Linked DNA regions of Homo sapiens. The protein of the gene in region 1 interacts with the protein of each later gene in a biochemical or structural test. Each region holds a gene or a part of one and is shown on either strand. Other genes may lie near its edges. The genes, in order: FBXO45 and PAWR.

What was found.
Region 2: the proteins of FBXO45 (region 1) and PAWR form a complex in vitro, tested with the Homo sapiens proteins (one study listed by BioGRID).

The regions. Positions count from the first base shown.
Region 1 is NC_000003.12:196,574,525-196,590,346, forward strand, and holds the end of FBXO45 (F-box/SPRY domain-containing protein 1), read left to right. Parts: intron 1-2,928; coding exon 2,929-3,285; intron 3,286-9,608; coding exon 9,609-9,794; 3' UTR 9,795-14,535; downstream 14,536-15,822. UniProt on the Homo sapiens protein: Component of E3 ubiquitin ligase complex consisting of FBXO45, MYCBP2 and SKP1. Functions in substrate recognition but also plays an important role in assembly of the complex.
Region 2 is NC_000012.12:79,682,608-79,698,389, reverse strand, and holds the start of PAWR (PRKC apoptosis WT1 regulator protein), read left to right. Parts: upstream 1-7,425; 5' UTR 7,426-7,518; intron 7,519-7,808; exon of another isoform or gene 7,809-7,834; intron 7,835-7,852; exon of another isoform or gene 7,853-7,998; 5' UTR 7,999-8,145; coding exon 8,146-8,661; intron 8,662-15,782. UniProt on the Homo sapiens protein: Pro-apoptotic protein capable of selectively inducing apoptosis in cancer cells, sensitizing the cells to diverse apoptotic stimuli and causing regression of tumors in animal models.

The DNA.
Region 1 (15,822 bases):
TGTTGAGGAAACAAGGTGGTTTACTCTCAGCTCGATTTTGCGGATTTCATTATCATCGTGTTGCTTGACATGTTCTTCTGTCCTCTATTTCCTACTGAGGTGTGATCAATTTAGATTAGATTAGATTTTTTTTGCAAGTTATTTTGTACTAGACTCAGTGGTTAAAAGTGTGTTAGAAAATAAGAGCTGCTAAATTGTTACGTGGCACAGAAAGTGGTGGGCAAGCACCCGGCAGAGAGAGACATCAAGGGAATTGGGTGGCCCTGGTTAAGAATAGCTTAATAGAGGTGATCTTAGAGAATGTGTGGGAGAAGAAAGCACATATAATACTTTCAGCAAGAAGAACATCATCAAGGTAGAAAGGGAAATAGGAAGAATCAGATTTGGAGGGCTGTGAAAGCCAGGCAGAAGAATTTGCAGTTGGTGATGCTACTAAGTATGGAACTACCAGAGGTTATAGAACTGGGATGAGATATGTAGTAAAGGTGCTGTTTTAGAAAGACAGGTTTGGAAATAATTCAGATAGAGAGTTGAGGACTGAGTTTGGAGAATTTGGTTGGGGCAGAGGAAGGGTGGTCACCAAAAAAGGAAATGATACAGGATCAGTTCAGGGAAATAGGAAGATGTCATAGAAGTTTGAGGAAGAGAGGGCCGGGCGTGGTGGCTCACGCCTGTAATCCCAGCACTTGCGGAGGCCAAGGCAGGCGGATCACCTGAGGTCAGGAGTTTGAGACCAGCCTGGCCAACATGGTGAAACCCTGTCTCTATTCAAAATTCAAAAATTAGCCGGGTGTGGTGGTGCACGTCTGTAATCCCAGCTACTCGGGGGAGGCTGAGACAGGAGAATCGCTTGAACCCAGGAGGCAGAGGTTGCAGTGAGCTGAGATTGAGCCACTGCACTCCAGCTTGGGTGACAGAGTGAGACTCTGTCTCAAAAAAAAAAAAAAAGAAAAGGAAGTTTAAGGAAGAGGTTGTCAATAGTGTCAATGTGAAATTGGAATTTATAAGAATTGGGGAGTAGGCATAGGGAAATATTAATTAAATATTTTATAGTGAATTATTGATATTATTCTCTTGAGTTATTTAGACAGTATTTGCTATTTTGGGGACATGTTCCTTCCCCATTTAATCTTCTTTTCCTTTCTTTTCTTTGTTTCTTTTTTTTTTTTTGAGACAGGGTCTCACTTTGTCACCCAGGCTGGAGTGCAGTGGTGTGATTTTGGCTCACTGCATCCTCTGCCTCCTGGGCTCAAGCATTCCTTCTGCCTCAGCCTCCCAAGTAGCTGGGATTACAAGCGTGCACTGCCACGCCCAGCTAATTTTTTGTATTTTTACTAGAGTTGGGGTTTCGCCATGTTGCCCAGGCTAGTCTTGAACTCCGAGTTCAGGCGATTTGCCCACCTTGCCTTCCCAAAGTGCTGGGATTGCAGGGGTGAGCCACCGCGCCCGGCCCCTTCATTGAATCTTACGTTTTGGTCTTATAAGTGCCTTAAAGTATTTTATAATACGAGCAGATAGGAAAAACATTGGGAATGCCTCAGTTTTATTGTGAATGCATGGGATACTGGAAACAAATAGTTCTCTGTTTTTAAATCTGCGCTCTGCAGCTCACTGAAACGGTAGAGTGCCAGCGAATGGTAAACGAACAGGTGGTGAGGGGACTGGATCCTTGATCTCTCTTTGGGCCTCTTGCACTAACTCGCGGTTGAAATCCCTGAGAAGGACTAGGTGACCTTTAAGGGTCTTCCTAAATGCTGACATTCTATGCCTCTGGAGTTGATTTTTCTCAGGTTAGCTGAAGCATAGGTCCCAGCCTTCCACTGCTTTGGGTAGTTTGACTAAAGTAGAGAAGGGATTTTTTAAAAACATACTAGCCAGGCAGGCGTAGTGACTCGAACCTGTAACCCCAGCTACTCGGAAGACTGAGATGGGAGTATCACTTGAGCCAAGGAGTTCAAGGCTGCAGTGCGCTACGATTGTGCCACTGCACTGCAGTCTGGGTGACAGAGTGAGACGTTGTCTAAAAAAAATTTAAAATACACAAACTAAAAGTTTAAAATTGTTTATGAGAAATTGTTATTGTTTGTATAGAAGAGCTATTTTCATACCCTCTTTATTTTGGAAGTGTAAACCTTTGTATTTACTGAAGAGTCAACTAACTTGTCTTATTGATAGCTTCTCTTCATAAATTCTAGTAGTTGAACCTAGATGCTATCTAAGGGATTATTTGATTTGGTAAAATGAGATTGGTGATTTTTTTATTGTGTAAGTCATATCCAGCAAGTAGGCTGAGGATCTAAGGTAGTTTGTGTTTACTAAAATTTTTCATAAACTTTAGAGCTGCTAGGATTAAAGTTTCTGTTTTATGTAAAATATAATTCTTTTTGATGACAGCATTGCCCATATGAAAACTGTACATCTCAACTTTTTGGTATAAAAATATCAAATATAAACAAAAGTAGAGAAAATAGTTTGATGAACTTCCTTATACCCATCACCAAGCTTTGCCAATGATTAATTTATGGCCAGTCTAGTTTCATGTTTCTATTGCACACTCTCCCACTCCATCTCTGGATATTTCAAAGCAATTCCCAGATACCATTATTTTATCCATAAACGTTTCAGTATTATCTGTAAGATATAAGGATTTTTCTTTTTTGTATCTTTTGATGTTTTAAGAAGTCTGTTTGAGGAAATACTACAATTTAAAATTTTGGTCAGTGATGAAACGGTTGGCATTTATTTTTTAATGTTATTTATTCTGTTAGTATTCCATCCTGAAACTTCAGCCATTATTTGGAAATACTTGTGTTATTTTAAAATATATAACTTCGTTATTTAAAAACATACAGCGTGAAGTTTGGGTAATTTTTAATATTTAAGAAAAATAAAATTGTTATTTATTTGGTCTGTTTTTCATCTTTTTAGATACGTGCTTTTCAACATGCCTTCAGCACTAATGACTGCTCCAGGAATGTCTACATTAAGAAGAATGGCTTTACTTTACATCGAAACCCCATTGCTCAGAGCACTGATGGTGCAAGGACCAAGATTGGTTTCAGTGAGGGCCGCCATGCATGGGAAGTGTGGTGGGAGGGCCCTCTGGGCACTGTGGCAGTGATTGGAATTGCCACAAAACGGGCCCCCATGCAGTGCCAAGGTTATGTGGCATTGCTGGGCAGTGATGACCAGAGCTGGGGCTGGAATCTGGTGGACAATAATCTACTACATAATGGAGAAGTCAATGGCAGTTTTCCACAGTGCAACAACGCACCAAAATATCAGGTGAGAAACTGGGGTTTTTCTCAAGTATGGGCCTTTGTCAAATCACGCCTTAATTTGTTTTAAATTTACAAATTTTTATATAGCAGTTTTTGTCTTTTTGGTAATTTTTATTTTTATTATTTTTTTATTTTTTCAGATACCCAGACTTCAAGGAGATTTTTTTTTTTTAATGTTAGGGGGTTATAGTTAATTTTGTTGGGTGTTATATTTTGATTTTGGCTATGCAGAAAAATATTCTTTTTTTTTTTTTAGACAGAATCTCACTCCGTTGCCCAGGCTAGAGTGCAGTGGCGCCAACTCGGCTCACTGCAACCTGCACCTCCCAGGTTCAAGCAATTCTCTGCCTCAGCCTCAGTAGTTGGGATTACAGGCGCCCACCACCATGCCTGGCTAATTTTTGTATTTTTAGTAGAGACAGGGTTTCACCATCTTGGCCAGGCTGGTCTTGAACTCCTAACCTCGTGATTCACCTGCCTTGGCCTCCCAAAGTGCTGGGATTACAGGCGTGAGCCACCATGCCCAGCCTCAAGGAGATTTTTTGACCATTTTTAAATAAATGTATAAATGATCTATCTCAATATTTGTTTCCTAATACAACTTTAAGCAGCCTATTTTTGCTCCAGATCAGGGGTTGGCAAACTTTTTGTAAGGGCCACGTAGTAAATCTTTAAGTCTTTGCAGTCCATATGGTCTCTGTCACAACTTTTTTTTTTTAATGTCATTTTCAAGGTAAGGATCTATCACGAGTTTCAACTCTATTTATAGTACAAAAGCAGTCATCGATAATACGTAAATGAACGAACATGGCTGTATTCCATAGACCTTATTTATGGGCTGCAGGACAGATTTGGTCCAGGGGCTGTAGTTTGCCAGTTCATGCTCTATATCAAGCTTGTCCAACCCACAGCCTGCATGCAGCCCAAGATGGCTTTGATTGTGACCCAATGCAAATTCATAAACTTTCTTAAAACATTATGAGATTTTTTTGCAATTTTTTTTTTTAAAGCTGATTAGCTATCTTTAGTGTTAGTGTATTTTATGTGTGGCCCAAAACAATTCTTCCAGTGTGGCCCAGGGAAGCCAAAGGATTGAATACCCCTGCTCTAGATGGTCATCTTTCCTGTATCACGGCACATCCAAATCTTTTTCTAGGCTCCTTACCCCAGTAAATACAGCTCTGTGCATGCACATGTTTGTGGATTCAAAGCCCCTGGAGGCATCAGTGAGTTCTGCAGAGACAGGCAAATTCAGGCAAACTGCTGTATTTTTTATTCTTTTCATCTTAGGCTTAAGGCATACTCATTTGACTCAAGTTAAAATTATAGTTCCTATTTGTAAAAGCCGTATTTATTACTACAGACTTAACAGGGTGTAATATACAATAATCTGATAAGAAATTGGAAGTCTTTAAAGAACTATAGATTGCATATTTCAGAGCCACCTGTGGCGTGAAAGTTCCAGCCTCAGTAATGACCTCAAGTCAGGCATACTAAAGCAGAAGAACCAAAAATACATCCCATTTTCTGAGGTATAAAAGCTGGAAGGATTTTTTTCATGGAATGTTTCCTCACTATCCTTTTAGGCTCTGCGGATACTATAAGGAGAAGGGTGTGTAGACTTTATCACTAAAAACGAAGTCCTGTCGCCACCCTTGTAATGATTTTGTAAGTGAAAGTCCTTAAGTCTGTTTTTCAGAGAACATGCTCTATGGTTTTAGTCCTTTTAAATTTATTGAGATTTGTTTTATTCTAATATGTGGTCTGTCTGGATGAGTGTCCCATGTGTGCTTGAAAAAATGTATATTCTTTTGCTGAATGGAATATTCTGTAAATGAGAATTAGGCAAAGTCGATTGATAATGTTCAAGTCTTACATAGTGTTACTGATTTTTTTCTACCCTTCTATTATTTACTAAGAGGAGTATTGAAATCTCCATCTATCCTTGCTAATTTGTCTTTCTTCTTTTAGTTCTCTCAGTGTTTGCTTCATGTATTTTGGAGCTCTGTTACTACTGGTGCATATACATTTCTAATTGTTTTATCTCCCTGCCTGATTTATTCTTTTATTATGAAATGACTTCCTTTGACTCTAGTAATCCTCTGTCAATCTGTCTTTGTATTTAAAGTGGAGCTCCTACACAGCACATAGTTGGATCTTGATTTTTATCTAACCCAGTCTCTGTCTCTGACTTTTTTTTTTTGAGACGGAGTTTTACTCTTGTTGCCCAGGCTGGAAGTGCAATGGCGCAATCTCGGCTCACCGCAACCTCCACCTCCCAGGTTCAAGTGATTCTCCTGCCTCAGCCTCCCGAGTAGCTGGGATTAGAGGCATGCGCCTCTAAACCACGCCCGGCTAATTTAATTTTATATTTTTTTAGTAGAGAAGGGGTTTCTTTTTTTTTTTTTTCTCCTTTTGAGACAGAGTTTCACTCTTGTTGCCCATGCTGGAGTGCAATGGCATGATCTCAGCTCACCGCAACCTCTGCCTCCCGGGTCCCGGTTCAAGCAGTTCTCCTACCTCAGCCTCTTGGGTAGCTGGGATTACAGGCATGCGCCACCACACCCAGCTAATTTTTGTATTTTTAGTAGAGACGGGGTTTCACCACGTTGGCCAGGCTGGTCTCGAACTCCTGACCTCGTGATCCGCCTGCCTCAGCCTCCCAAAGTGCTCGGATTACAGGCATGAGCCACCATGCCTGGCGAGACGGGGTTTCTCCATGTTGGTCAGGCTGGTCTCGAACTCCCAACCTCAAGTGATCCACCTGCCTTGGCCTCCCAGTTGCTGGGATTACAGGTTGTGAGCCACTGCGCCCAGCTTCGGTCTCTGACTTTTAAGTGTTTAGTTCATTTACCTTTAATGTAAGTGTTGGATTGCTTGATGTTGTCCTTATCTCTGCCTCTAAAACTATGTTCTTGTTTTTTCCCCCAACCTTGTTTCTCTCTAATCTTTGCATTAGATAATTTCTTTTCCTTTTTTTTTTTGAGATAGGGTCTCGCTCTGACACCTCGGCTGGAGTGGTGCAGTGGTGCAGTGGCGTGATGATCTTGGCTCACTGAAACCTCTGCCTCCCAGGCTCAAGTGATCATCCCACCTCAGCCTCCAGAGTAGCTGGGACTACAGGTGCTCCCCACCAATGCCTGGCTAATATTTGTATTTTTTGTAGAGACAGGGTTTTGCCATTTTGCCCAGGCTGGTTTCAAACTCCTGAGCTCAAGCAGCTGCCTGCCTCAGTCTCCCAAAGTGCTGGGATTATAGGCATGAACCACTGGGCTTGACCTAAATTAGATAATTTCTGTTCTGTCTTCAAGGTTATAAATTTTTTTCTTTTGCCATCTCACCTCTGCTATTGAACTGGGCTAGTAAATTTTGCTTATTGTACACTTCAGCTTTAGAATTTCCTTTTTTTTCTTTTTCCTTTTTTTTTTTTTTTTTTTTTTTTTTTTGAGACAGTCTCACTCTGTCGTCAGGCTGGAGTGCAGTGGCACGATCTGGGCTCACTGCAGCCACCGACTCCCGGGTTCAAGTGATTCTTCTGCCTCAGCCTCCTGAGTAGCTGGGACTACAGGTGTGTGCCACCATGCCCAGCTAATTTTTGTATTTTTAGTAGAGATGAGGTTTCACCATGTTGGCCAGGATGGTCTCGATCTCTTGACCTCGTGATCCGCCCGCCTCGGCCTCCCAAAGTGAAAGTACTGGGATTACAGGCGTGAGCCACCACACTGGGCCTGGTTCTTTTTTAGAGTAAATTTCCTTTTCGAGATTCCTTATTTATTTACTTATACTATATTTGTAAAAAAATCTTTGGACATATTCATAACAGCTGCTTTGAAGTCTTTACCAAATCCAACACTTAGGACCACTTGGATTCAGCTTCTGTTGATTGCTTTTTTCCCCTAAATATGAATCACGCTTTCCTGTTTCTTTTCATATCTAGTAATTTTTTTAACTGAAACCTAGATGTGTAGATAATATGTAGTAGTAACTCCTGAATGTTTTGTTTCTAGAAACTGCTTTATTCTCTGAAAAGTATAGGTTTTCTTGTTTTAGTAGGCAGTTAACTTGCCTATACTCAAACTATAAACTCTGTCTCATGTGATGTGTGGCAGCTAATGTCTGCTCAGTTTTTTCAGCTTTGCTGCTTTTTTAGTCCTGGAGGTTTACCCTGTGCCTTTGTAATATAGTGGTCACTCAGGGATTTGGGAAGTTAATTCTCAGATTTTGGGGTTCATCCTTTCTGTGGTTCTGTTGCTTCTGGAGTTCCTCCTCTAAGTTTCCAGTTGCTCTGCCATCTCCCCACGTTTTACCCCAGCACCTAAAGATGGTAAGACTTCGCTTTCTCCACCCTGGGCTTTGTGCGTGCTGTGTGCTCAAAGGTGAAGCAGATTTGCAGATTTCACCAGGAGTAATCGTTACTTAGTTTCAACTTCTGTAAAATAGGGATAGTTCCTAGGATTAGTGTGAGGATTAAATGGGATAATACAAATACGACACAACACAAATACCCAACAAAATTAGCTTTTCATTTCTACTTTGTTAATATTTTGTTGGTAGGAGTGGTGGTGATGATGATTTGGAGGTTCTTAGATCCATAAAATGAGGTGTGGGTTAATCTGTGAGGTGGGCAAAGGGAGGAAAAAAGCAGATGTTGGCAGTTACTGTTAACAGGAAATACAGTGAAGGAAAGTAAATGACAATAGTAGGGGTTATAATCAGGTAGAATTAAATTTTGATTGCAAACATTAGGACTTTCTGTTTCCAATTTTGTAGATGCAACATCTTTTTATAAAGGCAAACTAAAAAGATGAAACATCCTTTTTTTTTTTTTGCTTACTTTTCCAAATGGGAAAAAACTGGATATATTCTGCTTCCAGTTTCGTTTAATAATCAGTGCTGCTGTTTTTTATAACAAACAGGTGTTTCAGAGTTGTGAACCACAAATTGTTTAATAAGCCTATTCTATATTCTACATTAGAATTTGTAGCCAGATTGGATTATTCATGATTCCACATTACATGTGGAACTGCTTTGTAAACTTTAAAAGCTGTGTGTCTTACTAAGGTGATTTTTAAAATTGTGGTGAAACATACATATTTATTATTTTAACCATTTGTAAGTATACAATTCAGTGGCATTAAATACATTCACACACCTCTCTCTATACCCAAAACTTTTTCCTCACCCCAACATAATCTCTATTATGTTCATTCCCTATTTCCTTCACTCCCCACCCCTGGTAAACTCTGCTCTACAACTATATATATTTGAGTATTCTAGATACTTTATATAGGTGGAATCATACCATTTAGCCTTTTGTGTCTGGCTCATTTCACTTAGCATAATATTTTCAGGGTCTATCTATGTTGTAGCATATATCAAAATTTCATTTCTGTTTATGGCTGAATAATATTCCATTGTACGGCCGGGCGCGATGGCTCATGCCTGTAATCCCAGCACTTTGGGAGGCTGAGGCAGGTGGATCACGAGGTCAGGAGATGGAGACCATCCTGGCTAACACGGTGAAACCCGTCTCTACTAAAAATACAAAAAATTAGCCGGGCGTGGTGGCGGGCACCTGTAGTCCCAGCTACTGGGGAGGCTGAGGCAGGAGAATGGCATGAACCCGGGAGGCGGAGCTTGCAGTGAGCTGAGATTGCACCACTGCACTCCAGCCTGGGCGACAGAGCAAGACTCCGTCTCAAAAAAAAAAAAAAAAAAAGTTCCGTTGTATGTATAGTATAGTAATTTGAGAAGCTGATTTAGATTGCTCTTTTTGGTAAAATATGCCAAGTTATAGATTTTAGTGTTAACCTTAAGAAAAACCTTTAAACAAAGAGTAAATAAAATCAATCTAGGTAGTGTTCAGGTGGAACATTTAAATTGTAAGTAATTAAGTGTAGATTCCATGTGAGTCTTAAAAACAAAACTATCAAAGTAAGCATTTGTGATGTGTTACCTAGGCTGGAGTGCAGTGGGCAGTGGTGCGATACCAGCTTTGCGCCACCACACCCAGCTAATTTTTGTATTTTTAATAGAGATGGGTTTTCACCATGTTGCCCAGGCTGGTCTTGAACTCCTGGGCTCAAGCAATCCGCCCGCCTCAGCCTCCCAAAGTGCTGGGATTATAGGCATGAGCCACTATGCCCGGCCAGATGTATGTCCTTTTTTTATAGATGTTTCTTCCTGACTAGAAAGCTTCCCTTCTGATTTTTCTAGATAGCTTTCAGGATAATATTCTTAATATTTTCAACTTCTTGATTTGTGTCTTGTTTCTTCTAGCTACACCCTTGGCAGATTTTCTTCTAACCTTTTGATATCTGTTTGCAGATAGGAGAAAGAATTCGAGTCATCTTGGACATGGAAGATAAGACTTTAGCTTTTGAACGTGGATATGAGTTCCTGGGGGTTGCTTTTAGAGGACTTCCAAAGGTCTGCTTATACCCAGCAGTTTCTGCTGTATATGGCAACACAGAAGTGACTTTGGTTTACCTTGGAAAACCTTTGGACGGATGACAGTGGCTTTCTTGTGATGACAGACAGAATGGAGGAGAGATCTGCTTATGGGAAGTAGAACCATGAAGTGACTGTCACACATGCATGTCCAAGAAACATCCTGAAAACACATGAAGTCGTAAACTGGAGAAGCAGCTCTACAGCAGAGATTATCTTCGTGTTTCCTCTTTCTACTGGGCCAGAAAAATCCTCAGGGTTGCAGTTGGTTGAGTGGGCAGTTGACATATGCATGTTGCACCCGATGTTGTCTCTAAGTTAGCAATGTGTTATTTCCAGCTTTAAAGGTGAGATTGTAGAGATGCTGTCAAAGGGATAAGGAAATAGCAAGATTTTTAAGTAGTGTGTTTGTGAAGACTGATCCCATTTTACAACTGCCTGTTCTTTCTCCAGTCCTTTTTTTTCCAGCCAGCTTGACTATTAGAAAAGTATGAAACTGGTTGGGTTTTATTTAATATTTTTAATATATTGAGAAGCATGGTCTGCCTGGACTGCACTTCTCTAAAAGTGAGATATAAAATTGTGCAGCTATTTTAAAAGTTGTATATAATATGTGTGTAAAAAAAAAAAACTGTAAAAAAGAAAGGACAAACAGGTTGTTTTGTTCTAGTTCTAATTTCTTAAAAACCACTACATGGTTACAAAATTGGAATAACATTTGGGGACAACTGGGTTAACTACAAAGAAGAGGATTTTAAGAGGAGATGTGTTGTATTGACTCATTTTGTATTATTTTTGGCTTACAGTTCCCATAGCTGTTAGAGTCTGGTTTGTTTTTGTTTTTACTCTCAAAATCATAGTAAAGATCTCTCAGTCTCCTGGCTAAAGATTGAAGGAAGGCAAATCTATTTCTAATTATACATATATCAGTAAGGATGATCTCAACATAATAGTAATGTGTATCTTTTGGTATCCAGTTTTATTTTTGGCCTTCTAAGAAAGTGTCTCATAACACAGAACATTGCCATTTGCTCTTGTAGGCCTCAAATATGAAAGCTATTAGTCATAGAGCCTAGGAAAAAAAGAATTGATTAATGGTCCTTTTATTTTGTAACCTTATAAATGCTGTAGATATTATCAAAAAAATTTTAATTTCATATTGTTTACATCATGCAACTAATCTAAGCCTCAAACTCGTTATTGGGGCTATAAAGAAAACGTTTACTTACCCAGCTGAAACAGGTTAAGAATATTCTTAATCTCATTATAGATAATTGCCCCCATGGGACTTGAAATACAACACCTTGTGCTGAAAACTTCAGGTTGGCAATATTTGAAGGTTTCGTTGTAGAAGAGTTTAACATTAACTCCTATTTTGACTTACAAATCTTGTTTCTCATCACTAAAATGCTTTTGAATTAATAATCCAACCCACATGAGCTGAGAGTTTTTCTTTTGTTAGAAAAGAAACAGACATCTTTCTGTATGAAAGTATAAATTGTATGGTTTTAGATACATAAGAATTGACAAAAGCGAGCGAAATCTTTGTACTTCTGAGTTCTTGCTGTATGTATGTTTTGTTTTAAATCTGATTAGGGACACCCAGCAGCTGGCCGGGATTCTTGGATTGCTCCTTGGGAGTTAAGATTGTCAATACTCCTGTGAAGCAAGGGATTTCAGCCATAGAACAAAGATTTATTGTTGCCACCTGAAAAGTTTACAAGTATTTATTGTGTATTTGATACATTGCTTGAAAAGATGAAATCTGTTAAAGATTCTTTTCGATGTCCAGGTTAAGAAGAAACCTCCTTGTATTGAGTGAAATTATATGTTAAATGTATTAGAGAATGTAGGTGGTATAGAAATTGATTTTTCTTGGTGTAGAACAACTCAGTTCGGCAAAGTTTAAAATTTGATTAAACAAGAGAAGTGGTTCAGGTTGAAGATGGACTTGTTAGGAAGTGATCAAGTCCTTTAAGTACTTGTTTCTTTTTCAGGTTGTGATGTGGCCATTCCGAATTTTGTTGAGAGTTTGGTTTATAATTGTCTCTTTTGTCTTGTTAGTAAACATTCATTTGCAACAGTTTTGAAGGTGCTGAGTGGAAAACCGAAACACATGGTTATTGCGTATTGGACCTAGAATGAAATAATTGCCTCAATATTTAACAACAAGCCATTCTTATCTCAAAGATTTAAATTCCCGAATGTCCCATTCGCAAATCATATGCAATTGAAGTGAGCAGCATGAGCATCTGGGTCATGAGGGCCTTCATTTACGTAAATTTGTCACTAAAACCCAGTAGTAGCTCTACAAAATCTTAAACTGCTGCAGTGCTCAAGGAGATGGAATATCTTTGTCATTGGTGCTGAGGAGAGCATTTCGGTAGAAGACAGTTGCGCCTGAAGATTGAGTGTAAATCATTCAAACCAGTGGTTCTCAGTGTTGGCTGTATACACTTTGTAGTCACTTTGGAATGTTGGAAGACACATCGATGCTTGGGTTCCGTATGCCAAGATTCTGATGTTGGTCTGGAATATGAGCTGGTCATAAGGATTTTTAAAAACTTTCTGGTCATTTCAATATGCTGCCAAGGTTGAGAACCACTGTTGTAAAATTCACCTTGAGTTTTCTCATCTGCAAAATAGAAAAAAAAAAATCCTTGCTCCCTCCCTTCACTACCTCACAAGGATATTGAGGGTAAAGGAGAAAATAATGGGAAAGTGCTTGTGCCGTGGATGAAAAGTGCTATTAAAAGTCAAAGGAGTGTTCTGTTTCAATTCATAGTATGATCAGGGAAAGTGTAACTGAGTATACTTTGTTGACTTGGGAAACCTGGAGCACTTTCTTTGGTTGGTTAACGAAGCATGCAGATGTGGAAGCAGACGTTACTATTATCCCTACTATGGTCTTCTGTCATACTGAGACAGGCTGTTTTAATTACCTGGTTTTACATAGGAAAGAAGAAATATTAAGGCTTAAAGTTTGTAATGATCAATGGCTCATAATTCATTAAATCTTTTCATACAAGGAATTTGTGGTTAATGTCATTTCATAGTTGCCATTATTTTCTCATTATTTGACTTAAATGTTAAGCCATTTATTTCATCTCCCTCATTCACATAAAGTGTAGATATGGATTCAATAAGACACCAAAAGAAAGTAAGATTTACCCAGTTAATATTTAAAATCATTGTTCAGTGATTAGGCATTTTCTGCCTTTTAGAATTATTTGACTGGAGAAAGAGTTTCAAAAATAGCAGAGCCCTAAACCATAAAGAAACTACTACTGTATAATGAACTTTTGTTTGTTTTTGGAGACAGGGTTTCACTCTACTGCCTAGGCAGGTCTTGAACTCCTGGGCTCAAGCAGTCTTCCTGCCTCAGCCTCCCAAGTAGCTGGGATTACAGGTGTATGCCACTATACCCAGCTTTAACTTTTAAATCCCCAAACTATGTAGATTGTCATATTAATATTAATTTTTTTTTGTTATTTTGAAGAAGTGAGTAATTTGAAGAGATAGAAACTTAGGGAGTGGTGTGTGTGTTTCTTTTTTGGAGACAGAGTCACGCAGGCTGGAGTGCACGATCTTGACTCACTGCAACCTTTGCCACCCAGGTTCAAGCAATTCTCGTGCCTCAGCCTCCCGAGTAGCATGTGCCACCACACCTGGCTAATTTTTTTCTTTTTTCTTTTAGACGGAGTCTTGCTCTGTTGCCCAGGCTGGAGTGCGGTGGTGTGATCTCAGTTCACTGCAACCTTTGCCTCCCGGGTTCAAGTGATTCTCCTGCCTCAGTCTCCCGAGTAGCTGGGATTACAGGCACCTGCCACCATGCCTGGCTAATTTTTGTATTTTTAATAGAGACGGGGTTTCACCATGTTGGCCAGGCTGGTCTCGAACTCCTGACCTTGTGATCCACCCACCTCAGCCTCCCAAAGTGCTGGGATTACAGGCATGAGCCACTGTTCCCGGGCCTAATCTTTGTATTTTTAGTAGAGGGGGTTTATGCCATGTTGGCCAGGCTGGTCTTGAACTCCTGGCCAACACCACCCACCTCGCCTCCCAAAGTGCTGGGGTTACAGGCGCGAGCCACCGTGCCAGGCCAGAAATTTAAGGAGTTTTAAAGGTTAGCATTGAAAAGATTACTTTCCAGAAATTGAGACCACCACAGTTCCACAATTGGGACTGTGGTAGATAATCAGGACCACTTGGAAGCCTTTATTAGGAACAGCCCACACCCAGCCCAAATGCTGTCCTCAAAAACATTCCTCAGTTTCTCTAGCTGAATGTAATCTCTCCTTGAAATTTCCCTAGTTTTATATATCTATAGTTGACTCATGCTGTATTTATTTATACCTTGTTTAAAATTATTTATTGATTATTTATTGGTGTCATATCGCCCCTAAACTGGGACAGGATCTCTAACGGACTCATCTTTGTGCCACAACATGTAAGCCCAATAGGCAGGTGCTCACATATTTGCTGAAGGAACAGAGAAAGAACTGCGGAGAAAGACAAAAGCTCCTCTGAAGTTTTAGACTATAGAAGCAAAAATTATAGTAGCAAAAGATGAATGAGAAATTCTGTTCTAGTCCCAGTGAAGCAGGAAGGAAAGGGTTGCAAACTTGAGGCTGGTAAGGAAGAAATAATTACTGTGAATGCATTTAGCCACTCCCCTCTACTCAAAAATACTGGTAAACTCTGATTTTTATATTTGTTTAGAATTTAAATTAGAATTCTGTATCTTTATTTTTTGGAATTCTGTTGTTTTGCCTTAGTTTCTTAATAAAAAGTTAAACATTAACCACCTGTGATTGCTTACATTTAAAGACATTTTTTACACATTGGTTAGAAAGAAAAATTGGGGTGCCTTAATAGCCAGAGGTGGTGATGGAATTTACCTATAAATTCCATGGCTTTAATAATAGAATCCACATTCCCCATGTTTAGAATGGAAAGTGGACAGAGAACAGTAATTCACTAGGGTCTTATTTCCCAATTGCCTCTACCGCCCCCCACCCCACCCTCCTGCTGACATTTGTTTGATAATGCAGTTGTTTGCCAAGAATTATGAGAGACAGGCATGCTATTCCTGAACTGGCTGAATACACGGCTCCTGTGATCCAAAAGCTTAAAAGAGAATCAGTTGATGATGTTGCTAAACAAGTTGGCTGATATGTTAAAGTTCAAAGCATTTTAATTTTTTTTTTTTTTTTTTTTTTTTTTTTTTTTTTTTTTTTTTTTTTGAGACAAAGTCTTGCTCTGTCACCCAGGCTGGAGAGCAGTTGATGTGCTCTCGGCTCATTGCAACCCCTGCCTCAGGTGATCCGTGTGCCTCGGCCTCCCAAAGTGCTGGGATTACAGGCATGAGCCACCGTGCCCAGCCCAAAGCATTTAAATTTTATAAAAGAAAAATAGGTGTAAATGTTCTGTATTTGCCGCTTTGTTTAGTGGAAAGAGACGCCAGAGACAGCTTTACCAGTCTGTTGTCCTGATTTCTTTTTTGGATCCTCCCTCGAACTGTTTGCTTCTTATTTAATGTGTTCACTAAAATACTGTTGAGAGCAACATGTTCTCTAGTCTTCAGAATAATAGTTTGCTGAAAGAAGTAGCCCTTTAAGATTTAAGATTGTTATTCAGCTTTTGTATGTAGGATTTCATGATGAGTGGCTCAAGAAGTAGGAATCATTTGGGGAGTTTCCTTAGGTCACCCTGTTGATAGTGTTTAATTTCTGTTTAAGGCAGGAAAACATTAAGAAAAGATTAGAGAAGTCAAGTCCTGTCTATGATATGATATGATACTTGTACACCATGTTATATTTCTGCCCCCTTTCCTGTATAAATAAAATGGGGATAAAATCAAGTAATGGTTTTGAGGTCATAGCTCCCTTAAGAAAGTCTCCCTGAAATAATGTATTAAAATTCTAGCGTCTCAAGTTAGATTCATTAGAGGCATATTGTAGTGGGAACAGACCAGATATCTTTGTTTATTTTAATATAGCTAACTTGTTCATATTCCCAACCCATGTTTAAAGAGCATATGATTGATCTGTGCCCCCTTGTTGGTCATCTTCACCTTGGAAGGAAAGGA
Region 2 (15,782 bases), on another chromosome or scaffold:
GGATCAATAGATCAAAAAATGGTTGGAGTGGGGGTATGAGAGGAAGTGTGCTGAAGAGTTAGGTGGTAGTGGTTGAAAATGGAATGTTCAGAACTGAGATTTTGAAGATGTACTTATTGATGATGACAAAGTCAAGAGATATCTAGCTGAAGAGGGGGTAAAGAGGAAAAATGTTATTTGGAGTGAGGAGGTCAAGTATCTGAGATGCCAGGAGACTGGATAAATTATCTTTGTAGATGTTATCACTAAGAACTGGACATAAAGAGGAGTGGGGAGAAAGAAGGTTAGCTAGCAGTTAAAGTCCTCAGTAAGTAAGAGTGACTTGGAAGTAGGCTGACAACAGGAACAATGAGTTGCTCCTTGTAGAGAGTGGTATAGTCTGATGGCACTAAAACCAGTCTGTGGGAAATTCTTCCAATCATGAGACATGTAAAATAAGCAGAGAATTAGGTTTTCATTGGCATTTGATATACTTTCCTATCAGGAATAGATATTCTTTCCTATCTGGAATATATGATATAATGCTGAGTATAAAATTATGAATGGCCTATACATTATTTTCCTTTTTGAAGTAGATTTTTTTTGATGTACAATTTATAAGAGTTCTTGTGTTTGTGATGCATAAACCTATATACTTGTACTACAAATAGTGGATATATCTGCATGTAAAGACATGTACTTTATGCATCAATAAGTAATAAAATCAATAATAAAATGCATACAAAATGGCATAGAAATATGTCAGAGAGTAAATGAATAGGGTTTTTTCCTGGATTTTTGTGATATTTATGGCATTTTTCAATTTGTTAAAATTTGTAATTTAAAAAAATTTCTCACTTATTCTAAATATTTATTTTCTTACGGATTATTTTTCTTATAGAAAGTCCACCAAATTATGTAAGCTTCAGGCACCATAAAATCTAGGTCTTCCCTGGATAGGCCAAAAATCTGGTCTAAGATTACCTACAGGCAATTGAAAACAGAATATTCACTAGCTATATGAAAAATAGTTTTACTATATGGTTAAAAAAAGTTCCAAAAGAGAACCACATCTATTCTTAATATGGATGTCAGAAATGTTTTCTAGGTTTTTGATAATAGGAATATATGTAATATAATGGGCCACACCTTCAAAAAAAGCCTACAGAAAATAAAACAAATTTTTAGAGCTCTTTCTTATAGTGTCAATCAATATGGGCTTATGATGTAAATCACTGAGGACAGAAATAAGATGTAGACGTCTCTGCTGATCTGGACTTATGGAGTAGATTGCAAAGTATCTAGAAATCTGCAAAACAGATGAATTGGACTTCCTATTAAATATAACAGGCTGAACACACGTGTTTATCTTTACTTCCTCAAGTAACTTCACTAAAACCAAAGTAAAATGATAAACCAGTAACAACAAAGAGGATGAACAGTAAGAACAAAATTTTGGAAGATGAAAGATAGAAAGCAGACAGGCTTTAGCAGAGCAGAGTAAGGTAAATTCTAACAACCTGCAAGAGACAAAGCCAATAAGAAGTAATCTTTTTTTGTCCTGCAGATCCCTGAAGAAAGGTTCAGAATTGGAGGCAGCAGCATATACCTCTGAAACAGAGTGAAGGATGGGGATGAAAACAGAAGGATTAGTTGAAAATCTACACAAGGAACAGTTAGATTCTCAAATCCCTTCTGCAGGGCTCAGTAGCAAGGAGACTATCTCTCCTGATCCTGGCAGAGGACTGGAAGTTTTCACATTGTACAGATGTTGAATTACAAACGCACTGAAATTGGGTACGTCAGATATACTAAGTATAGGGATTAAGTGAAAACCTGCGTATTGAGTAATGAGACTCCTCCAGTCTTCTTTCCCTACTTGGCACCTGAAAAAATTGGCAACTGACAACACAAGCAGAAATAGTTTTACTCAAGGAAAATTATTGGGCCAAAAGAGAAGCTCCATAGATGCTGAATTTGACACATGCCTCCAGAAAATGTCTGCGGCCAAACACCGGCTCCCTAAATGAGGCCCATCAGTCCAACAAGGTCTTCCTTTTCACATAAGAGCTTTCAATCAGCTTTGCAGTGCTTCAGTCTTAAATATGAATAAACTGATGAGGAAGTGCTCTAACATGAAAGATGAAGATTAAAACAAACAAAAAATGTAGGCAATTTGCTTAGAGGACAAAATGCTCAATATGTATCATAAGACCAAGATGCTACAGAAAAAAATATTTAGAGAACAAGAAAGAGATATTAGAAATAGTGTCCGAAACAGAAAATTCTATAGAAGAACTGGCATACAAAGTGAAGGAAATTTCACTAAAAGTAGAATAACATGCCAAGGAAATGAAAAATAAAAGAGAAAAGAGAAAAAATTTGTTAGAGAACTTCTAGCATTCCAACACCTACTTAACAGGAATTCCAGAAGGCAGGAACAGAGAAAGTAGAAGGAAAGTCTTATAAAAGAAAGAGAATAGGCCAGGCACGGTGGCTCACGCCTCTAATCCCAGCATTTTGGGAGGCTGAGGCAGGTGGATCATGAGGTCAGGAGTTCAAGACCAACCTGACCAACATGGTGAAGCCCCGTCTCTACTAAAAATACAAAAATTAACCAGGCGTGTGTGCCTGTAATCCCAGCTACTCAGGAGGCTGAGGCAGGAGAATCGCTTGAACCCGAAAGGTGAAGGTTGCTGTGAGCCTAGATCAGGCCACTGCACTCTGACCTGGGCGACAGAGCGAGACTCCATGTCAAAGAAAAAGAAAGAGGATAAGAAAATTTCCTAACTGGAAGGCAGATAGCTGATTAAAAGGGTCCACTGACTGCATAACATAATAATGATAAAAGACCAAATCAGAGCATATCTTCAAGATATTTCAGAGGATCTAAGTAAGAAGATCCAAAAATTTTGAGACAGAAAATACAATGCAATCAGAATGCCACTGGTCTTCTAAACAGCAACTCTGGAAACTAGATGATAATAAAGCAATGCCTTCAAAATTATGAAGGAAAATGCTTTCTAACCTAGAGTTCTATGCTCCACCAAACTATTAATCAAGTATGAAGATAAATTTAAAACATTTTCCAATATGCAAGGTCTCTAAGAATGAGTTATACTATCTTCAGAATATACTGAGGATATACTCTGCTAAAATGAAGGGGAGAAACAAAAAGAGAAAAGTATGCAATTCAGGAAACAAGAAGTCTACAGAGAAAATGATTCTCAAGGTGTTAGAGGAGCATAATCCCAGGATGACCACAAGCAACGAGCCTTAAAATCAGTCCAGATTAGGCCAGGTGCGGTGGCTCACACCTGTAATCCCAGCACTTTGGGAGGCCAAAGCAGGCTGGTTGCCTGAGCTCAGAAGTTCGAGACCAGTCTGGGCAACATGGTGAAACCCCCGTCTCTACTAAAATACAAAAAATTAGCTGGGCGTGGTGGCATGTGCCTGTATTCCCAGCTACTCTGGAGGCTGATGCAGGAGAATTGCTTGAACCCAGGAGGCGGAGGTTGCAGTGAGCCAAGACTGCGCCACTGCACTACAGCCTCACCAACAGAGCGAGACTCCGTCTCCAAACAAACAAACAAAATCAATCCATATTAAAGCAGGGGATGGAGGGCTCCAGAACAGATGTTTCCAAAAAGAGAATAGAACTGATAGCTTACCCAATGTGATTAACGTCATTGAGAGGAGGAAAATTTGAGTATATACTTGTGACTGGTATATAAAAAAATAAGCCGATGATTAAAGAAAAAAAAAGAGGCAAGTTTTAACTGCAGAAAAATGGTAAAGACAAAAGGTATAGTTGTGCAACAAGGAAAAACAGTTGTAAAAAAAAAGAAATGCAATCATATACACCACATGACTCAGCTATGAACAGTATTTGTATAGTCATAATACTACGGGCGTGTAGGAGTATGAAAAGTATATGTGTGGCCGGGCATGGTGGCTCATGCCTGTAATCCCAGAACTTTGGGAGGCCGAGGCGGGTGGATCACGAGGTCAGGAGATCGAGATCATCCTGGCTAACACAGTGAAACCCCGTCTCTACTAAAAATGCAAAAAAAAAAAAAAAAAAAAAAAAAAATTAGCCGGGCGTGGTGGCAGCCACCTGTAGTCCCAGCTACTCAGGAGGCTGAGGCAGGAGAATGGCGTGAACCCGGGAGGCGGAGCTTGCAGTGAGCCGAGATCGCGCCACTGCACTCCAGCCTGGGAGACAGAGCGAGACTCCATCTCAAAAAAAAAGAAAAAAAAAAGAAAAAGAAAAGAAAAGTATATGTGTTATTAGTGTATTAGAGCTAAATCCTCTTCTATATCTAAAAATGGAAAAATCAAGATGTACAATAGCAGATATGCACATAAAAAATAAATATGAAGATCTCTATTAATGGAAACAGTTAAAAAGTTCAAAGTTTTGGGTAGGGTTTTCAGAATGGATAAGGTAGAGAGGGGATTGCTGTTTTTTGTTATAATCCTTGTAGAACTAAAGTATGTAATTTTTTTATCCTATGCACATATAATATTTTGATGTTAGAGGATGAATTGCATATGTTCCAGAAATACCTGCATTGAAGGCAAAATGGCTACTTCCCAATACACTAGCTATCCATACATATAATAATACACTTCCTCAAAATCATTAAGACTAACATCTAGGTTTCACTCTGACATATTTAAATGAATCTGTTTTTGTCAGCATTATCATCATATTTCATTTTATTATTAAGGGCAAGTGAGTCGCTAAAAATTGGTTATTTTAGGCTAACTCAGAGGTGCTCAACCGGGGAAGAATTTTATCCCAGGGACCATGTGGCAATGTCACAATACAGGTGGGGGTTTCTTATTGGTATCTAATAGGTAGAAGCCAACGATGCTGCTAAACAACCTACAATGGGCAGGACAGCAAAGAATTATCCAGCCCCAAATGTAACAGTGCTGAGGTTGAGAAACCAAGCTCCAAGTCTTTGAGGATTATTTCATCAGAACGCTATACATAAAGATTGATGATATGCAAACATCTTGCAATTTAGGACTGACTCAGCTAAATACCTCGGTGCAATGTTGGAAGCAGTCTGGCTGTGAAATATATCTTCGGGAATATTGAGAATGGTAAAGACAAAAGGTATAATAAATGATAATAATAACAAAACACAGAGCTTTGTACCTCAATAATCTCTTTCATCCATGGTTCCTAGGGCACTTTATAGACTAATAATACCTACTCTGGTACTCACATACCACCTTTTATCTAAGGACTGCAGGCACTTTCACAACACTCTCACGATGCAGGAAGTATTATTATCCCCATTTTATATGTAAGTAAACAGAGGCACAAAAGTTAAGCAACTTGCCCAAAGCCACACAAGTCAGTAGCAGCCAAAATTCCTGACTCAGAACCTATTAACACTAAGAGAACTGGTCTAAGCCATGCAGTGATAAATTTATGTGGGGTGTTATCCTAGTTCATTCAAAGTCTATCGTTTTTAGGCTGATATTGTATATTCAATACCCCATCTGTTATAATTTCCTCTTCTCCCATACACTTCTTAGAGACCAAGGACTTTAAGCCCCTAGAAGGGACTATGTTTACTGAGTGCCTTCCTCGAATCAAGCACATTTTATGTGCAGTGTCAGTTCTTAAGACAGCTTAAATATAATGTAATTGGGAGGCTGAGAGCAGGAGAATTGCTTGAACTCAGGAGGCGGAGGTTGCAGTGAGCTGAGATCCCGCCACTGCACTCCAGCCTGGCGACAGAGCGAGACTCCGCCTCAAAAAAAAAAAAAATGTAATTTTTGCTGATTTTATAGTACAGAAAGCTGAGTACCAGATAATGTAAACATGCCCAAGATCTCTCAGCTAGCTGACTATACCCTCTTTCCACTATATCCTGCAGCCCTTCCAGGAGAAAAGTCCTCTGATAAGTTACAAAGCATATGAATGTGAATACGTTTAATGTCCCAGCCTCCCTTACTCTCCTTAAAACTCAGAAAACAAACTAATGAATATGTAATTGAGAAACTTCAGGTGGCACACTGGGGTTGGTACTAGCTTAGGTAAACAGCCGCTCAGCCTTTTAGACCTATTCCCAACAAAAGCTTTTAATTTTCTAAGGATTTTTCCAGAGCTCTCGCCATACGTTTCCCACAACAGCCAGACCAAAGACCAAAACTGTCTTTCCCTGAGAAATATAGAGCATGTGAATCACTTTCTTCTGTTCCCAGTTCTGTGGCAGGCAAACACTGATTGCTCACTCATCATGTGCTACCTGGGCAAAACAGGAATATTAAGTAGGAAGAAAGGTTTATGTTAGGTAAGAGCGTGACTTAGGGCTCTCCTACTTTTTTACAAAATGGAGACCTGGCATTTGTAGCCTCCCACAATGATGTGCCCTGACATTACTTGGATATAGAAAGGTCAGTCTTAGGTGCGTCAGTGACAGCCCACCCCGCTCTGATCCAGAAATTTCAGATGACTTGCATCAGAGGATAAGCCTCTGGCATGTTAATAATGAAAAAATAGAGACAATCACTGCCCCAGCTCATCTCAAATTAGCATCAGTGCAGCGTTAGTACTTTGGTAGGGAGCTTTGCTGCTAAATTCATTCTCTGTAAAGAGGAGAGGCAGAGACAGGGTTAAGGGGAAAACTCCAAGACTGGAATCGCCAATACAATAAACTGTCGAACTGAGTTTTTTCTCCCGCAACCCTAAGATACTAGTAAGTCCTTCCTCTTAGCCAACCCTTTTCACCAGGGCACCGCAGTTTTCTTAGAAGGAGGGTGCTGGGTTTGTCTCAGGTCTTTCTATTCTCCTGCCCGCTGCCCTAGTACATCTGAAAAGGGAGCAGCGACTAGGAAAAGAGACACGTGGGTATTTTCCCATCCTGTCTAGTCATTCCCTGAATCATCACAAGTTATCGCACTTTTCCCCTTAGCCAGCAGCGTTCGAGACTTTCTCTCAAATAATACGGTCTTGTACTTAAAAGGAAGAGTGGTGGGAGAAGAGAGAGGCGGAGAAGACAAGCAAGAAGGGCGTGGAGTGCCGTTCCCGCCCCGGAGTCGGAGGCGCCGGGAGGCCGGACGCCGCGAAGCTGCTAGCCCAGGAATGTGCCGTCTAACTCGCAGGCCGCGGGCGGAGCGCGGCGGGCGCGCTGTGGTCTGCGGCGGGAGCGGGGCAGAGGACGGCTGGCGCAGGGCAGGCTGCAGCGGCGGGCCGGACGCGACGCCGCGCACCTGAGCGCCGGGGGCGGGGCGTCAGCGGCCACGACCCTTCCCACCGCGCGCCGCGCCCCTCGCGCGCCGCCTCGGCCTTTTCCGCTCGTGCTTCGGCGCCGCTCGGCTCCCTTCCCGCCCCTGGCTCCCTCCCTCCCTCCCTCCCTCCTTCTTCTCCCTCCCTCCTGTCCTGGGATTGCCTGGAGCTCCGCACCGCGAGTTTGCCGCGGCACTTTCCGCGCGGCGGAAGAGCGCGCGCCAGCTTCGGCACACCTGGGAGCCGGATCCCAGCCCTACGCCTCGTCCCCTACAAGCTCCTCCAAGGTAAGGCGCTCGCTCACACCCGGTCCTTTCCACGCTCGGCGGGACAGCTGGGTCCCCGCCTCCTCTGCGAACCGGCTAGGAGCTCCGCGCCTCGCCTTGGGAGTGGGGTTGTAGCTGACGGGGACCTCGGACCGGCGGTGGCTAGAGCGCGGAGCAGGCGATACGACGAGCCGACAGGTGGCGGGTCTAGCCCTAGTATCTCGACCGCCGCCGGCGCGGACCTTGGTGGGGATGGGGCGGGCGGGCCGACTTGGGGGTGGGGTCAGTCCTCTCTCCTCCCTTCTAGGGGCGGCGATCGTCGGGGTCCGTACTGTAGGTGCGTGGGAGAAACTTTGCAGGGTGGGGACCCGGCGGCTGCTGGCCGGTAGTGACTGGTGGGCGCGCTCGAGGACTCCAAGGGGCGCAGCCCGGGGGCAGACCCTTGGGTCGGGCGGGGATCTTACGCTTCCCTTACCCGCCCCCTTTTGTCTTTCACCTCAGCCCCGCCGGCTGCTGTGGGAGCGGCGGCCGTCCCTCTCCTGGAGGTCGTCTCCTGGCATCCTCGGGGCCGCAGGAAGGAAGAGGAGGCAGCGGCCGGAGCCCTGGTGGGCGGCCTGAGGTGAGAGCCCGACCGGCCCCTTTGGGAATATGGCGACCGGTGGCTACCGGACCAGCAGCGGCCTCGGCGGCAGCACCACAGACTTCCTGGAGGAGTGGAAGGCGAAACGCGAGAAGATGCGCGCCAAGCAGAACCCCCCGGGCCCGGCCCCCCCGGGAGGGGGCAGCAGCGACGCCGCTGGGAAGCCCCCCGCGGGGGCTCTGGGCACCCCGGCGGCCGCCGCTGCCAACGAGCTCAACAACAACCTCCCGGGCGGCGCGCCGGCCGCACCTGCCGTCCCCGGTCCCGGGGGCGTGAACTGCGCGGTCGGCTCCGCCATGCTGACGCGGGCGGCCCCCGGCCCGCGGCGGTCGGAGGACGAGCCCCCAGCCGCCTCTGCCTCGGCTGCACCGCCGCCCCAGCGTGACGAGGAGGAGCCGGACGGCGTCCCAGAGAAGGGCAAGAGCTCGGGCCCCAGTGCCAGGAAAGGCAAGGGGCAGATCGAGAAGAGGAAGCTGCGGGAGAAGCGGCGCTCCACCGGCGTGGTCAACATCCCTGCCGCAGAGGTGAGCCGGGCGGGGGCCGCAGCCGGACCGGGCCGGGGCGGGCAGCTGCCTCCCGGTGTCTTCCTCCTGGGAGCTACCCGGGGCGCAGAGTTTACCTCCCCTGGCTCGTACTTGTCCCTTCACCGAGTTAGGCAGGCAGGGGGTGATGGAGTTTTACTCTGAACAAATGCTTCCTGGGAAGTTCCCCAAACTCAGAGTAGGACACGTGCTTTTCAGGCTTCCTGGCCAGGTCTCAGATCCAGGATCCTTTTTTACCGTGGTAGAAAGACAACTTATGGCTCCAGGACTTGCCCACCTGGACTTGGCTGACTTGGCCACCTGGACTTGGCTGTTTATGCTTGATCAGTTAGAAAAATTGATTAATGGTGACGACATTCTCTAGGGTCTCACGTGCCCATGTGAAGTTACCAGTTTATTTCTCCTTTCTTACCAATGTTTAATAACATCTGTAAAGAAAATGTTGCCTTAGCAATATCCAAGACAGCTTTATCTTACAGTGAGCTCAAGATGAGTATATCCAAATGAATACGTGCACTATTTTATATATAAATCAGCTGTTTATAAGTTGTGCTCCTAAACACACAGTGTTTTTCTGAGTGATACTTAGGACAATAGGGATGATTTAGTAACCCACAATTCTGTTCGCTAAGACGATCTCTTTTTGAGTACTGTGTCTGAAAAACATGTGGTAGGGTTTTTGTTTGTTTTGGGTTGTTTGCAGTTTGGAGCATTTTCGAAACGTTACAGGTAGCAGCATCTTCCATTAGAGTGACTGGTAAAACATTTTTACTAAGTGTATAATCACACCTCCCTCTACCAGAAACAAGACAAAACAATCTCAAACAAGTTTTGATTACTTTGATAGTAGCTCATGGATTTGAGGAAGTGGTTCAACTACCTTGTTTCACCTAAAATAGTTGCATCTTTTTCTCATTGACTGTTTAGCTTTCACTTTTTCTTCTCCTGGCTTTCTAATTTTACTCAACTTTAATTGTGGTTTAAGTAGAAGCATTTGCAATAAGTTAGGGTGTATATTAAATATACCTAAATTTTTAGTATTATGATTTCCATACCTGTTAAATCATAGTGTGTCTTTGTAGGACGTATTTATATGAGCGTTTCAGAGATTTTTATCAGCCAGCAAAACTGTCCTCTGCGGTTTGCTACTTGCACAAAAGATCTGTTATTCATTAAATTGCTTTAGAAGGAATTCGTAAGAGTGGTAATCAAATTTCTAGGTGTTTTTTTTTTTTTTTTTTTTAGTTAAAAATATGAAGATTAAGGGGAAATTGAAGACAAGGCTTTGGAAAAGCTACATTCCTCAACTTGATTTTTAAAAGTAGCTGATGATCCAAATAAAAGAATTTGTCATTTTCAATCTTTTCCTCATTGTTCATCTGACAGCGGTCTTATTTTGGGAAATATCTTGGCAGATGTTAAACTTCACTTTTTTTCTGGCTGCATGTGCTAAAATTATTTTTCAAGTACTTTTTTTTTTTTTAAACAAGGGTAATGTTTACTGGGGGAAGTAAGTAGAGTGTATCTTGTGAGATCCTAAGAAACATCTTTTGTTAATACCCCTGCTTTGAGTAAGAGAACATAGTGCTGAGAATGTAGATGACTTCCCACTACAATGGAGTCTAATACTCTGGAATGTTTTTCGTTTGGGTGTTGGCAACTCCTAAATTTAATCTTCCCTGAAAACAAACAAACCAAGGGTACCTTTTTTTTTGTCTGTAGAGTTTGAACCTTTTTATTGAATAGGGAATTGAGGACTGCTTTCTTTTAGTGGTAACTATGTCTCTGTCCGTTTCAAGCTGCAGGACCCAACAAAACAGTAATGCTTCACTACAGTATCTAATTAACAGACATACTTCTTGAGCGCCTCCTCCTCATATTTTCTTATTTTTCAAAACAACTTATGTATTTCAGATTATTTTAATAGTGGTAAAATATATGATGCAAAACTTTAAAGCTGAGCCATTTTCATGTGTTTATATTGTTGCTTTTTTAGAATTGTGCCATTTCTCCTGGTAGTTTCAACATTGAGAATACCAGTTGCTGTGGAGTTTCTTGTGTAATATTTAATTTAGCACCCCTGTTTTAAAAAGTCATACATATTTTGCAAATTTTTCGGGTATGAAAATAAGTAAAAAGATGAAAATGACCAATCTCTTTATATTCAAAAGTAGACTTTATTTTATCTAATGTCGAGTAAGACTCTTATTTTCAGACATGATTCCCAACCAAGTCTGTATTAGTAGATTAACATGTAGTTCATATGTAGAGATCTGGTTTTAATGGTGGATAAACATTAAGTTCCTTCAAGGAAGTACTTATGAAACATCTGTGTGATACATTTATTGTGACTTTCATTACCTCACTTTACTAGTTATAGAGTGTATATATAATACTGTTATAAAGGTATCTGACAGCAGCTAAAGATACCAGAATTGACTAGAAGATAGTTATAGGCAAGGAACCAGGTCAAAAACCGAAACTAGCTATTTGGGAGGTAGGAAACTGGGTGGTTACTGCATGTGATGGCTGAAGTCGATCTATCCAGAGCTTCTTTAATGAGATAAAATTTACTAAGAGTTTTAAGAAAAATATCCTTTTTTCTAAATTTTTACATTTTCTATTTTTTGGTAGTAATTCACCTGAACTGGGTAATTTGGACGTGGCATACTTCTTGCCAGTAATTTTTGTGTGTGTTTATCAGATCAGTCAAATGTGTATTACATACCTGTTAAAGACACTATCCTTAAGCAGTGGAGAAAATAAGAACACGGCAGTGTATATTCTCAAGGAGCAAGGCTATAATCTAGGAAGAAGGATAAGGCATAATTACATGAAAAAATTTAAGTACTGAGTTAACAGTTTAAAAGCCATCTTAATGAAGCATGTAACTATTTATTGGAAATAGTGTGTGTTTAAAAGGGGGAGATGATTGGGCTGGGAGAAGCTATTGAGGATGAGAATCTTGACCTGAGTCTTAAACTTTTCAGTACTTGTATATTTTTACATATGTTCTCACATATGTACATGTATACATAATTGTTTGTATAGTATATTAAGTACCGACATGCAGTGGTTCTTAACTTGAGCAGCACATTGATAGCATGTTAGGATCTTTAAAAAAATGTTTGCTCATGCTAATTCAATTCCGTGCCCTCTTTGTCCCTTCACCCCACCCTGTAATATTGAATGGGTCTGGGATGGATCCCAGGCATTAATATTTTTATAAGTTCCCCATTTGATTCAAATGTGAGTCAGTGATAACAACTGTTGGACTGCAGTCTGGGTATAGAAATGAATAGGACATAAGCCTTGCCCACGAGGTGCTCTCAGGTAATATAAGGAAATGTGAAAAGTAGAGTAGTAAGTATAGCTTAGTGCCTGAGCAGGGTACCTAACCCAGGGAGGAGGAGTGATAGTTGAAGAAAGCTTCCTAGACAGTTACATACTTGTTTCCAGGGGGTTTGTGAAGTTACTGCCATTGAGTAGGGTTGTGTGAATGGGTTAATGGAGATGGGTGCCATAGAAAATGTAATCTTTGAATAGGTAGAGGTGGCACTGAAGTTTTGGTTTAAGTATAAAAGTTAACATATACAGTATTTAAAACTTCTGTTTTAAAATAGTGGTTGGCTAAAGTGGTTTAGCTTTAGTGGTTGGCTAAAGTGCTTTATGTACTGAAGTTCACAGCAATCTCATGTGGTAGTTACACTGTTTATCACTATTTCCAGAGGAGAAAATGAAGACTTAGAGCTTAAATGATTCAAGATCACATAGAAAGTAACTGATAGAGCAATATTTTAAACATTTTTGTGTATTTTGTGTGTATGTATATATCTAGGGAAAGGGGAGTTTTTAAAAATTAACCTACTTTTCATTATTCAGCATATTTCCCTAGATTTTTACATAACTTTTTATTAAAGATTATCTTAAGTAATTTAAACATCTGAATGAGGAAAACAGTAAAGGTATGGAATTGAATAGAATTTCAGGTCAAATTTGTGGACTCAGAGATTGCCTCTGACCCTCTAACCTATAGAGTGGCAAAATTTTGAACACCAGGCTCTCGGCAAAACGTAAATTTATTTTTGGCTAGTGGTCAGAAAATGTGAATCTTTGATTTTACCTAAGTGATATATTGTTTTTCTATCAAGATGGGGTCATGACACCTACTCCATAGTTTGAACTCGTGTTGGTGAAAGGGAAGATAAAGGAGCATTTAACATATAGAAAGCACTTTTAAGTGAACACAGGTTAGGTCATAATTATTTAGTATGTTTATTGAACATTATATATAGGACAAGTTCCACTTAGTAAACTTTATAAATCCAGGTGGATTAAGAAATGCCTTTTGTTATTCCCATTATGCTCCAGACTGTCTACCTTTCTGTGTGATGAGTCAGGAGAGAAACTAATAATGACTCAGAGTTGGAGAAAATTTGATTCGTGAATGGGGTAGATATAGTGTAAACACTGAGACTGTTTAGTGTAAAACCTGGGCTATTAGCCCAGCTTTCCTAAATGTTTGAGCTCACTGGTAAAGTAAATTGAAATTTTAATATTATCAGGATTTGTACTGAGTTGTCTGAGCTGGGATGTCATTTCTCATAAAAATAATAATTACATAATTAAAGTAGATGACATTTATGGTGTGCTTATTAAGTGCCAGGCACTGTTCTAAGCACTTGACATACATTAGTGCATTTAATTCTCACCACAGCCCTATGGGAAAATGGGGAAGAGAAGGTATGTTACTTGCTTCAGGTCATACATGTAGTGAGAAGTAGATTAGAGATAGTTTGCACTCACAGTCTTGTGCGTAATAAACCATCTTACTACACTTCAGTGTATTACATACTGTATACCTAGTTTAAGAAATACAAAGAATATTTTAGTGTTAAATTGTTAGTATATGACTATGGAATTTAAAAATAGCCCTATTTATAGAACATAGATGAAGTGAGACTTTAATGGAAAATTTTGAGAACAAATGAATATATAAACACTGGCATTAAAATTCTTATTTAAAATCATTATCAAGCTAGTGGCCTGTTTATACTATTTTCTTTGTTTTTTTCTTTCTTTCTTTTTTTTTTGAGGTGGAGTCTTGCTCTGTTGCCCAGGCTGGAGTACAGTGGCATGTGGTGTGATCTCAGCTCACTGCAGCCTCCACCTCCCGGGTTCAAGCAATTCTCCTGCGTCAGTCTCCCAAGTAGCTGGGACTGCAGGTGTGCACCACCATGCCTGGCTAATTTTTGTATTTTTAGTAGAGATGGTGTTTCGCCATGTTGGCCAGGCTGCTCTCAAACTTCCAGCCTCAAGTGATCTACCCGCCTCAGCCTCCCAAAGTGCTTGGATTACAGGTGGGAGCTACCGTACCAAGCCTATCTATGCTATTTATTATTTCTGCATTTTTTTTTTAGCACCTATGATGTGTGCCAGAAAATAATTATGCCATTTAATAGCAAGGTTGATATAATGTTTTATAAGTATAAAATTATTGGCAAATATTAGGGTTTGACATTTTCTCTGTGCTTTTTTTCCTTTTTTAAAAATTGAGATATAATTCACATACAATAAAATTTACCCTTTTAAAGTGTACAGTTCAGTGGTTTTTTAGTATTCACACGGTGTGCTCTTAAGTGCTTTTATATTTTCATCTTTATTTTTCATTATGTTCTTAGAACCTCTGGTCCCTAAATTTTAGCTTTCCTTTCAGTAAAGTGATATGGTATTCAAATTATGAGAAGCCATTAACTTAAAATAATTTAATATCAGCCTTTCCCACTTTACAGAGAAAATGAAATTATGGTAGGATCTCCTCAATTTTAAGTTTCTTAAAACTTGGGCACCTACTACCATTTGTTTGCAGTGGAGTTTAGTATAATAGGTATTTATTAGGTTTGTGCAAAAGTAATCACAGTTTTTGCCATTGAAAGTAATGGCACCAGCCTAATAGTTGGATTACTTTTGCAAAAACCTAACAATTTAACTGAGTGTAATACTTTCACCTTAATAAAACTTTTACATATCTTTCATGGAGATCTGCAAAGCTCTGTCATCTAAACATTTGGGAACATTGATTCAGAGTTAAAAAAAAAAAAAAAAGGAGTTTCCACTGCTTACCACTTTAGTTACAGTACTAGAATCAGTGTCCTAAAAGATGTTTCTGGGGGGACCATCTCTACCAGTATCACTTTTGCCATTTATTTAAAATCAGATTTCTGGAATCCACCCCAGTCTGGGTTAGGGATGTTATCTGAGAGTCTGCATTTTAACTTGAGTGATTTTGGTACACACTAAAGTTTGGGAAGAACTAACTTAAATACCCTGTACTAGTTTACTGATCCGTCAAATGAAATGAATGCTGGTTATCTAACAGGATTGTTACATGAATTAAATAAAATGATGTTTGTGAAAATGTTATAAAAATGCCCAAATCAGAAATTGTAGTTACTGTATAGGTTAATTTCCTATGAGGTTGTTAAACATTTTCATTTTTTTCTTCCAATTTAAAACTGTGCATATTTTAACAGACAGGTTGAGCTACTTGGAAATTCAAAGTACTTTAAACATTTATGTAATGTCACATACTTAGTGCAAAATGCTCTGTCTGCTTTGCCTCTTTTCCAGAATTTAGACAAGTCTAGACTACAGAAACACCTCAAATAGTTAATGCGTAATTAGAACTTTACTTTCACTCATTTTTAATTTTTACATATCTTTAAGTGAAAGCATATACTTGTGTTTATAAATGTATTTGATAATTAGCAACTCAAACTTTTAAAGCATTGTGTTTGCCATCTTATCAAACTACTATCAAGTGCAAACATTTTTCCCATTGATTACAAATCTTACATGTTAGACCTATAGGCATCCTTGACTGGCAATTGATTTTGAACATATTTGGTTAACTGCTGAGTCAACTTTCTGTTTAGATCTTAGGCAAATGTGTTATAGCCATATACCTACATGTATAGAATTGAGCCTCAGCCACCTGTTACATTCTCCTTAGGCTATGTAAAAATACACAGGGCACCATGGCTGAACGACATTGTAGGAATATTTAAATTCTAAAAGCAGCAAAATCACACACTTCAAAGGTA